Regions from separate parts of the Homo sapiens genome. Here region 1 is linked to region 2. Evidence: fine-mapped expression QTL. A gene starts in region 2. The other region holds a variant in brackets. All regions are shown on one strand. Distances are between the middles of the regions. Region 1 overlaps MAPRE3 (microtubule associated protein RP/EB family member 3). Region 2 holds the start of AGBL5 (AGBL carboxypeptidase 5).

Region 1 (4,387 bases), 71 kb before region 2:
GGTTTACAGATTATTCATATAAATTTGCATATCATCTTCACAAGACATGTAAGCATGCTCTCAGCACGTATTCTTCATCAAGCCCTTTCTCTGTTTTGTATTGTTAGTCACTATGGGATATAAAGGAAATGAGACTCAACCCTTGTCCATGAGGAGGCTGTAATGTGTGTGGAAGACAAGATGGATATATGGAATGATTAGTGCATATGACAATATTGCATGTCAGAAACACATCTTTGGTGCCTTATTCTATAAGACACAGTGTCAGCCCTTAAGGAATTCAGCTAATATTCTGGCAAAAGAGTTGGACACAAAACTGTATGTCACTGTAACATGAGGGGATGGAACCTTATCAGCTATGGGAAAGGGTGCTTTGGTAAGCCAGAAGGAAGAGTCACCCTGAGCCTGTGAGAACCAGAAAGACTTCAGAGATGAAGACACACTGGAGCTGGGTGTGCAGGTTGATGTGGAGACTCATCAGAGGACAGCTGAGGAAGAGAGGCAAAAGAAATGAAAAGAACAGTGCATTGGGTGTCACTGGTACTACAGAGTCTAAATTCCAAAAGGATGCTGAGAGGAAAATAATCATTGTGAACTGGAGTAATCAGAAAAGACTTCAGTCTAGGTGCAATGGCTCACGCCTGTCATACCAACACTTTGGGAGGCCAAGGGGGGAGGATCACTTGAGGCCAGGAGTTCAAGACCAGCCTCAGCAACATAGCGAGACCCCATCTACAAAAATTGTTTTTAAATTAGCCGGGCATGGTGGCATATACCTATAGTCCCAGCTACTAGGGAAGCCAAGGCAGGAGGATGGCTTGAGCCCAGGAGTTTGAGGCTGCAGTGAACTATGATCATGCCATTGCACTCCAGCCTGGGTGGCAGAGTAAGGGCCAATCTCTATTAAAAAAAGACAAGACTTCACAAAGGAAGCAGAACCTGACCTTGTCTCAAGGATGAGCAGGCTGTGAGTTGACAGAACACCAGAGAGGGCTTTTCAGGAGGCAAGGTACAGCATCAGCAAAGGAATGGCCGTGGGAAGGGGTGTGGTGGGGTTTGTAGGCAGGGCAGCCTTACCAGACTGAGGATGTGTGCTGGTTTTGAGTTTGGAGAATATTGGTGACATTAACCAGAAATTAGGAAGTTTGAAGAGACAGTTTGGAAAGGAGTTGCTTTTTAGACACAGAGAGCTAAAAACAACGTGACTGTGGGTTGCAGGACATCCAAGTTGAGTGATCTCATAGAACCGGAAGCTGAGGGTCAGGTTGTGGATGGAGCTGTAGAGTGGGAGTCAGCAGCACAGAGGAGGGCTGGATTCCCTCAAAGGAATCTCTCCAGAGGTCTTGCATGCAGAGTACAAAGACCAGAGCCCCAAGTAATAAGCTTTGAGAACTGTCCATAGTTAGGAAAAAAGGAACAAGATGGTGGGAAATTAGGATGATTCAGCAGCAAGGGAAGAGAAAATGTCTGGAAGAGAGTTTCAGTGCTGCTGATTTAACTAGATTTAAGGATTTAACTAGAAGGCAGTCATGATGATTGCTTAGGGTATCCATTCAGTAAAACACTGGAGTGGTTTAAGGGGAAAATTGACAGAGAAAAATAGAAGCAATGGCTGGTCACCAGAGAATGGCAGCAGGGAGGGAAAGAAAGTAGTAACCAGAAGAAGCAATCGAATCAAATATTTTATTTTTGTAAAATAATTCTATTCTTTATCAGCAAACATATAAAATTGTAGTATGTGGTTCTTAAAATATATTTTGTGTATTAAAATGTGCTTCATCTGCAGACTTCTCTATATTGACATAATCCATATATTTGTAACTTCACATATTTCATTCCTTTGGTGGTATCCCATCATATTGATACCAGTATGCTTAACCTCAATCTGTTGTTGGGCAGTTGGAGTATTTTGCAAGTGTAAATATCTCTGATTTGAACATTACTGTACAAGTGACATTTTTTTCTTTTGTGGATTATTTATTCATGGTATATTCCATAAAGTGAATTACAGAGGTGCAAAGGGTACGATTTTTTAAATAAGCTTTTTATACAACGTTCTTCATGGTGATCTAACCAACTTTCAATTAGAGTAAAAGTTTGGTATTGACGAAGAATCATTTTTTATAAGAAGGAGGTCTGAGCATGTTTAATGGCAGAAGGGAAAAGGAGTTATCCAAAGAAAATAGTACACAGACAAGAGAGAAATAAAGCAAAAAGGAATGATCTTTAGGATCCCAGGGAAAGGTTCCTTTGAAGAGAAGAGGGCATGGCTCTTTCTACCCCTGACTTTTAGGGTGAAGTCCAGGATAGATTACTGGGGTTCCTCCTAAGAAAAGACCTTTCTTTCTTTAGTAAAATAGAGCCAAGGCCACTTGCTGAGGTGGGGGAGGGAGAGGGTTGGTGGGGAATTGAGTTCTTGAAGGTCTGAATTACCCACAGTGAGAAATAAGTCTGGGCATATGAGAGATGAATAAAGGTCTTATTGTGAATGC[T/C]GCATTGGACCTATGAATTCATAATGGGCTGAGTCTTTAAAGTCCTCTGGCCAGAGAAGCAGCAGTGAGTGGGGACGGGCACCAGGAATGGGTGTTGCTTGGCATGTTCAGGGCAAGGTTTCTGAGGAGTCAAAACTTAAGATGCAGTGAAGTAGCTGGCCCTAAGGCCGGAGGTAGAGGAAGGGCCACAAGTTGAAGACAGGCGCTGGTTGTCAGCCAGAATGAGGAGGCAGAGGAATTACAGGGGCCAGTGGGAACGGAAAACAGGTTTAGAATATGAGGGATGAGCAGTAAGGAGGCCACTGACAGAGGAAGATTTTCATATTAAAATTTGGCAGAGGCTTCTTTTACTTTTGTTCATCTTTGTATAATGTTTACGTTTCTAACACAGACGTGTAACCACTAACATTTCTTAAAGGAATATTTGAAATCTCAGGAGTCGAGCTGTGCCTTCCGGGTGTGGCTGGATTGCTGAGATGGATGAAGGAGAAATGAAGATGGAGCTGGATCATGGAGCCTACCTTGAAAAGGTGCTGGGCCTCTAAGGAGCCTCCACGTGTCAGCCAGTGGCTTCTGTGGTCTCAGCTTGTCACAAAAGAGTGGCACCCAGCCAGCAGCCCTCCTCCACCTACACTCCAGTAGTGTTCAAAATCCAAGGAGGCCCATCTTCCCAGGCTTGACAGTCGACTCTTAGATGTGCTGTTGCGTGAGTCTGGTGGTTTCCAACTCTCTGAGCAGATCCCTACTGAGCCATGCCTCTCTGGCCTCTGTGAGTGAAGGTTCTTCCTCCAGACAGATAGAGTCCCTTGCTAGGAATGCAGTTTTGTGAGTGGAGCTTGGGTTCTACTCATTTTGTGAGGGTTCCAGCCCTCATCTCCTCCACAAGGTGCTTTGTGCAGTGTACAAAGTGTACAACTGTTTATAACAGCCCTGTTTCTCTCTTGCCTATTATGAAACTTGGCCTAAAGTCCTTTCCTCCTCTGACCCCTCTCTTTCTCATGTCCTCCTAGATCATTCACTTTGACTCTGACCCTGTCTAACACCCTGGGTTGTGGTCTTTATTCCACCTGCTGGATTCACATTACTTTCATGCTGCACAACTGAAGCCATTTACACAGCTCACCATGCAAAGCAGCCACAGGGGCTGATAGCAGGGGACTTAACTAGGTGGGAATATGTGGAAAGTCAGGTGCAGGAGTCAACCTGTGGAAACGGAAAAGCTAGGGCTGCTTTCTTTCCAGGGCCTTACACTGACATTACCTTGCCTGGACATTTTGTAGTCCCGTTTCATGAAAGCCAGGACCTAAGCAGAAGTATGGCTCCCTGCCAGTCCCTACCAGGAAGGAACAAACAGCTTGCAGTACAGGCCTCAAGCCAGGTGGGGCAGGAGCAAAAGTGCATTGTGTTGCCTGTGGAATTAAATGGACTCTCTATAAACACAGCCTCCTGCCACTGTTCTTTTCTCTTTCCACCTAGTCAGCCTACCTGAGAATAATTAGCCCTTGGCCTATAATTAGGTAGAATGATTATTTTACTACTGTTTATCCATTTCACTAGATAACTAGCTTCATGAGGCAGGGACCATGTGAGACCTAGCAGTATCTGGGGCTCAACAAATAATTGCAGAATGAATGGATTTCTAAGGCATATTTGTTGCTGTCCATCCTTAATGCTATGAAATGGTACCTAGGAGTGAGTATATAGTGACCATAGTAACTAACGAAAAAGCCCTCACATTTGTCCCTAATGGACAAGAGTGCCAGCAAAAGCAATGTTTTGGACTTCTCAAAGTCAAAACTCAGAGACTCTCAAGATTTGGAGTAGCATTGAAAATTAGGAAGGCCCAACCCAGCTCCTGTCAGAGGGAAATGGAAAGACATGAGAGGAAGATCCCA
Region 2 (4,387 bases):
ACCAGGCAGAAGACCCTTCCCCGGCCCTGGGGAACCCAAGATTTCCGAGAGTAAGCGGACCTGTGCAAAGACCCACAAGGGAGGCCAGTGGCCTGTGCTGGGCACTGTACAGCCGCCCCGACCCCGACCTCACGTGGGCCTCGGAGGCTGCAGGGACCTACCCGGCCGCGCGCCGCCCACCATCCCAGGTCTACCGCAGGGGAATCCCCCAGGCTTGCGAGCGCTTCCGAGGGCAGGAAAGCCTGTACTGCAGCCCCGCCGCCCTCTCCTGGCGCGTAGCCCTCTCCCCGAGCCCTCGGGCCACGCCGCCAGGCCCGCGATCCCAGGGCGGCCCGGGGGGTTCGGCACAGCCCGATAATGCGCCGCGCCGAAGCCTGCAGCACCCCGCGGTCGCCGTCTCTCTTGCACTGGTCAGGACGAATAGAGCCTGACAAAACCTGAGTTAATTGGCCGAGCGAATGTCGTTCGCGTCAGGAGAGCACGTCCGGAGAAGCCAAGGGAAATGTGGAGCAGGAGCAGCCAAAGTGGCCCATCGGCTCTCGAGCAGGGTTTGCGCGTCGCGGTCGCAAAGCCCCTGTGAGTGCAGGTACCGCGGCACAAGCGCTGCCCCGGAGCTCCAGGAGGCGGCGGCGGGCTCGGCGTTCGCGGTCCAGGAGAAACCACCGCGGGGTGTTGGGAACATTTTGTTAAAAAGCCGGGAAGCTCAGGGCCGGTGTGGCCTCCGTTCTGGCCTGAGAACCCGGACTTTGGGCAGCTTCTTTTCCTTGCCTTTGGGTCTCCGGCTTTCTCAGCTCTGTGAGGTCCCATGGGTCTCCTGCCCTGGCAGGTTCCTTCAGCTGGAGAAAGCGGGGGTCATGGCTGGATGAGGTTGCGGTAAGCATTAGAGGGCTATCAGCAGCATCTTATCGCAGCGGAGCCTTCGATAGCTCAGTTGGTAGAGCGGAGGACTGTAGTGGATAGGGCGTGGCAATCCTTAGGTCGCTGGTTCGATTCCGGCTCGAAGGACTTCGTCTGTAATTTTTAACCTCAATTTAATTCAATTATCCCATAAGGGGAAAGGCTTGGAGGCCTCCTGTGACTTAGCATTCGTACTGCCGTCAGTCCATAGGGAACACCGTAGTATGTAGTATACGGTAACGCTCTTTCTGCGTTCAATGTACATGTGGTAACGTGTTTTAGAATGTTTTCTGCTTAAGCACACGATTATATGCTTGATTTTTAGAATCTTGCACATGGATGCCACTGTATTGTACTCTGCTAAATAAATGTCCTGAACTGTGGTTGATCCACTGGTCAGTGAACAGTGCAGTGAACCTGTAAGGCAAAGGGAAAGAACTAAGCAGCAGGCGGGGGATTAGCTCAAATGGTAGAGCGCTCGCTTAGCATGCGAGAGGTAGCGGGATCGATGCCCGCATCCTCCACTCAGCTTTTGCGTCCGTCACACTACAGAACACAAAACGGGAGGGATTCCCGGCGCAGTGGGCTACGTGTTTCATTTTAGAGACACAAGACTGTTAAGCGATAAGGAGTTTCACACGATGTCTTTTTATTTCGCAGTTGAGTCCCAGTTTCTGCCGCTTTATCTTTCCCGCCTCCCGGCAGGCAGGCCGTTAACCGTCTTCCGGAAGACGCTGCTAGAACCCTCCGGCCGCTCCTGCCCGCCATCGTCCCCGAACGACACTCGCTCAGGTACCCACTAACGTGCGAGGAACCCTGAGAGCTGACCAATGGTAGCGAGCTTTACTGGGCGGGTCGCCAGCTGCAGCCACGGCCAATAGGCGAGAGACTTCTTGTTTCCTGGCAGAGCGGGGTCCCGGCACCGCGGCGCTCGGGTGTTTTTGGGGGCCCGGGTGGAGGGCCCGGGTGCCGGGGCCCAAGGTGCGGCCTCGCTAGCGGGAGAGGGAGCGGGATCACCGGCCCGGAGAGAGGTGAGGGGCTCTGCGCGGACTACGGGCCCCGCCAGCCCCGGCCCCGCCAGCCCCGGCCCCGCCCCCTTCTCTCAGCCCCTTGAGCCCGAGCCCCTCGAAGGCCACCCCGCACCCCGCTCCCGACCTGGCTTACGCGGTCCCGACCCCGCCCAGCTCCGTGGCCTCACCTCTGACTCCTAGGCCCTCCCTGCCTAATCCCCTGCCGCGGGAGCCCGTCTCGACCCCTTCCATGCCTCCCAGTCCCACCCTGCCCAGGGCAAGCCCGCTCGGTGTGACGGTTCCCCGCGAGTCGAGGGTGGAGAAGCCAGCCTCCTTCCCCCGAGTGGGACTCTAGCAGCCCACCTCTTTTAGGGGTGCTGAGAACACCCATTACTCATCCACAGCTACTAGGGTAGCTTTCTCAGGGTGCAGTGCTTACGGGGCGGAGGGGGATGGAAACAGACCCATGCCCTGGCTGGAAGGGAGCTCCAGTCGCTAGGTGAGCCCAGTAGCCTTTGGCTTGGCAGAGGCACCACTGTTATAGTTTTTCTCCATACTAGGCATAAGGTAGGAACAAAAAAGGAAGAACCAGCCCTTCCAGGGCTCAGGGGAGCAACACCAGAATGTCCGCTCAGTACTTGTGAGGACAGAGGCTGGAGAGAGGACTACCCATTTACACTCAGAACCTCGATTCCTCTCTCTGCTCTGTGCTGGAGAGTGCAGAGCCAGAGATCCAGAACGGCCCATCTCTAAAGGTGGCCATGTATGGTGGTGAGTGTATCTTGGCTAGGTTTGGAAAATCTGACCTCTCTGATTATATTCTCTAATCTTTGGGCTGCAAAGCAGCTGAGAGTTTAGTGTTTTTCAACATAGTTAAGCCACTGAGTTTTATTTGGGAACAGCCAAGCTAAAGTAAAATGGGGTCCCTTTAGGTCATTTACAACCCTTAGTGTTGGGGTACAGAATGCTGCTTTCTCTTGGCCTTTGCTGGAAGACCACTTCTATGTTTTCTAAGAGGGAGACAGCCTTTTGTTTCATAGGGCACTCCCTAAGAATAGCTCTTATTTATCAAGAGATACCCAGAAAACTCTTCGATTTGTCTTCCCTTTCCTCCTTAACCTAACCCTTGTTTTCCCCCAGCTCTCAGGGCCAGAGCGGGGCAGGAGGATGCTTTCCCAGCCCCACCATGGAGCTGCGCTGTGGGGGATTGCTGTTCAGTTCTCGCTTTGATTCAGGGAATCTAGCCCACGTGGAGAAGGTGGAATCTTTGTCCAGTGATGGGGAAGGGGTAGGAGGTGGGGCGTCAGCCCTGACCAGTGGCATTGCCTCTTCCCCTGACTATGAATTCAACGTGTGGACCCGACCAGACTGTGCTGAAACGGAATTTGAGAATGGGAACAGGTATATGGAACGAAATGGAGGGTGGAAAAAGGCTCCAAACCCATGCTTCAGTTAGCCCTCTGACTTATCTGTTCATACCCAGCATACTCCCTGTCCATTTCTGACCCATCGTCCCTCCTTTCTCCTTGCCAAATAGCCCTTTCCCAGTTTGGCTGGCTCCGGCTCTCCCACAGACCATATCTCCAACCCTTCCACACGTAATGACCTCTCTCTTACTCTGGTCCTCAGGTCATGGTTCTACTTCAGCGTCCGGGGAGGAATGCCAGGAAAACTCATCAAGATCAACATTATGAACATGAACAAGCAGAGCAAGCTGTATTCCCAGGGCATGGCCCCCTTTGTGCGCACACTGCCCACCCGGCCACGCTGGGAACGCATTCGAGACCGGCCCACCTTTGAGGTAAGTTCTCCATGAGGAGGAAAGAAAGACTTGGGTGCTAAAAGTAGAGAGGAAAGTAAAGCGTTTTTTTTTCCTTGATACAAGTATGAAGCAGGTGGGACAACAGGTTTAAGTATCAGCTTTTTCTCCAGTGTTAGCTAGAGTCCAAGATGAGCCCCTGCCTCAGGAAGCCTAGAAGGAGCCACTTTTCATATAGAAAGTGTCACAGGGAGGGAAGTTGGTAAAGGTGATAAGGGTGTGAGGTCAGTTCCTGGTGGTCCCAGTAGGAGCTCAGTTCTGACAATGGCATGTTGCCCCTCCCTCTTCCTCCTCTGCTCTTCAGATGACAGAGACGCAGTTTGTGTTATCCTTTGTTCATCGTTTCGTGGAGGGCCGTGGGGCCACCACCTTCTTCGCCTTCTGCTACCCCTTCTCCTACAGTGACTGCCAGGAACTGCTAAACCAGCTAGACCAGCGCTTTCCGGAGAACCACCCTACCCATAGCAGGTGCCAGCCCCATTCTTACTCCTGCCACACAGTCCTGGATCAGACAGCACCTCCACTACTTCTGGAATTTGCTCTTAGAGCTCTGAACCATACTTTCATCCGTCTTTTTTCTGTACAGAATGTACAGACAGGACTTTGGGTACCTTTGAAAACTATGTTTCTGTATGACCCTGATCTCAGCATATCGACACCT

The links. PIP is the estimated chance that this variant, and not a neighbour inherited with it, causes the effect. A credible set is the group of variants that fine-mapping cannot tell apart.
Region 1: its variant is the best candidate, but not a certain one, in a credible set for the expression of AGBL5 in whole blood (TOPMed, PIP 0.59).

The regions. Positions count from the first base shown.
Region 1 is chr2:26,978,685-26,983,071 of GRCh38, forward strand. The region is part of intron 1 of MAPRE3 (microtubule associated protein RP/EB family member 3); the gene reads left to right. Among named protein-coding and RNA genes, the nearest start is that of MAPRE3, 10 kb to the left of the region's middle. RefSeq lists an enhancer at 3,903-3,962. The variant T/C (reference allele first, on the strand shown) is at 2,493.
Region 2 is chr2:27,049,866-27,054,252 of GRCh38, forward strand. AGBL5 (AGBL carboxypeptidase 5) reads left to right here and starts at 1,803. Exons shown (of 15, transcript NM_021831.6): 1 at 1,803-1,928; 2 at 3,048-3,308; 3 at 3,537-3,708; 4 at 4,031-4,194. The coding sequence starts at 3,094. AGBL5-AS1 (AGBL5 antisense RNA 1) reads right to left here and starts at 399. Exons shown (of 2, transcript NR_046730.1): 1 at 315-399; 2 at 1-139. TRY-GTA2-1 (tRNA-Tyr (anticodon GTA) 2-1) reads left to right here and starts at 917; the gene lies at 917-1,005. TRA-AGC8-1 (tRNA-Ala (anticodon AGC) 8-1) reads left to right here and starts at 1,349; the gene lies at 1,349-1,421. RefSeq lists silencers at 184-393, 1,096-1,390, 1,794-2,233, 2,254-2,303 and enhancers at 554-843, 1,014-1,243, 1,558-2,057.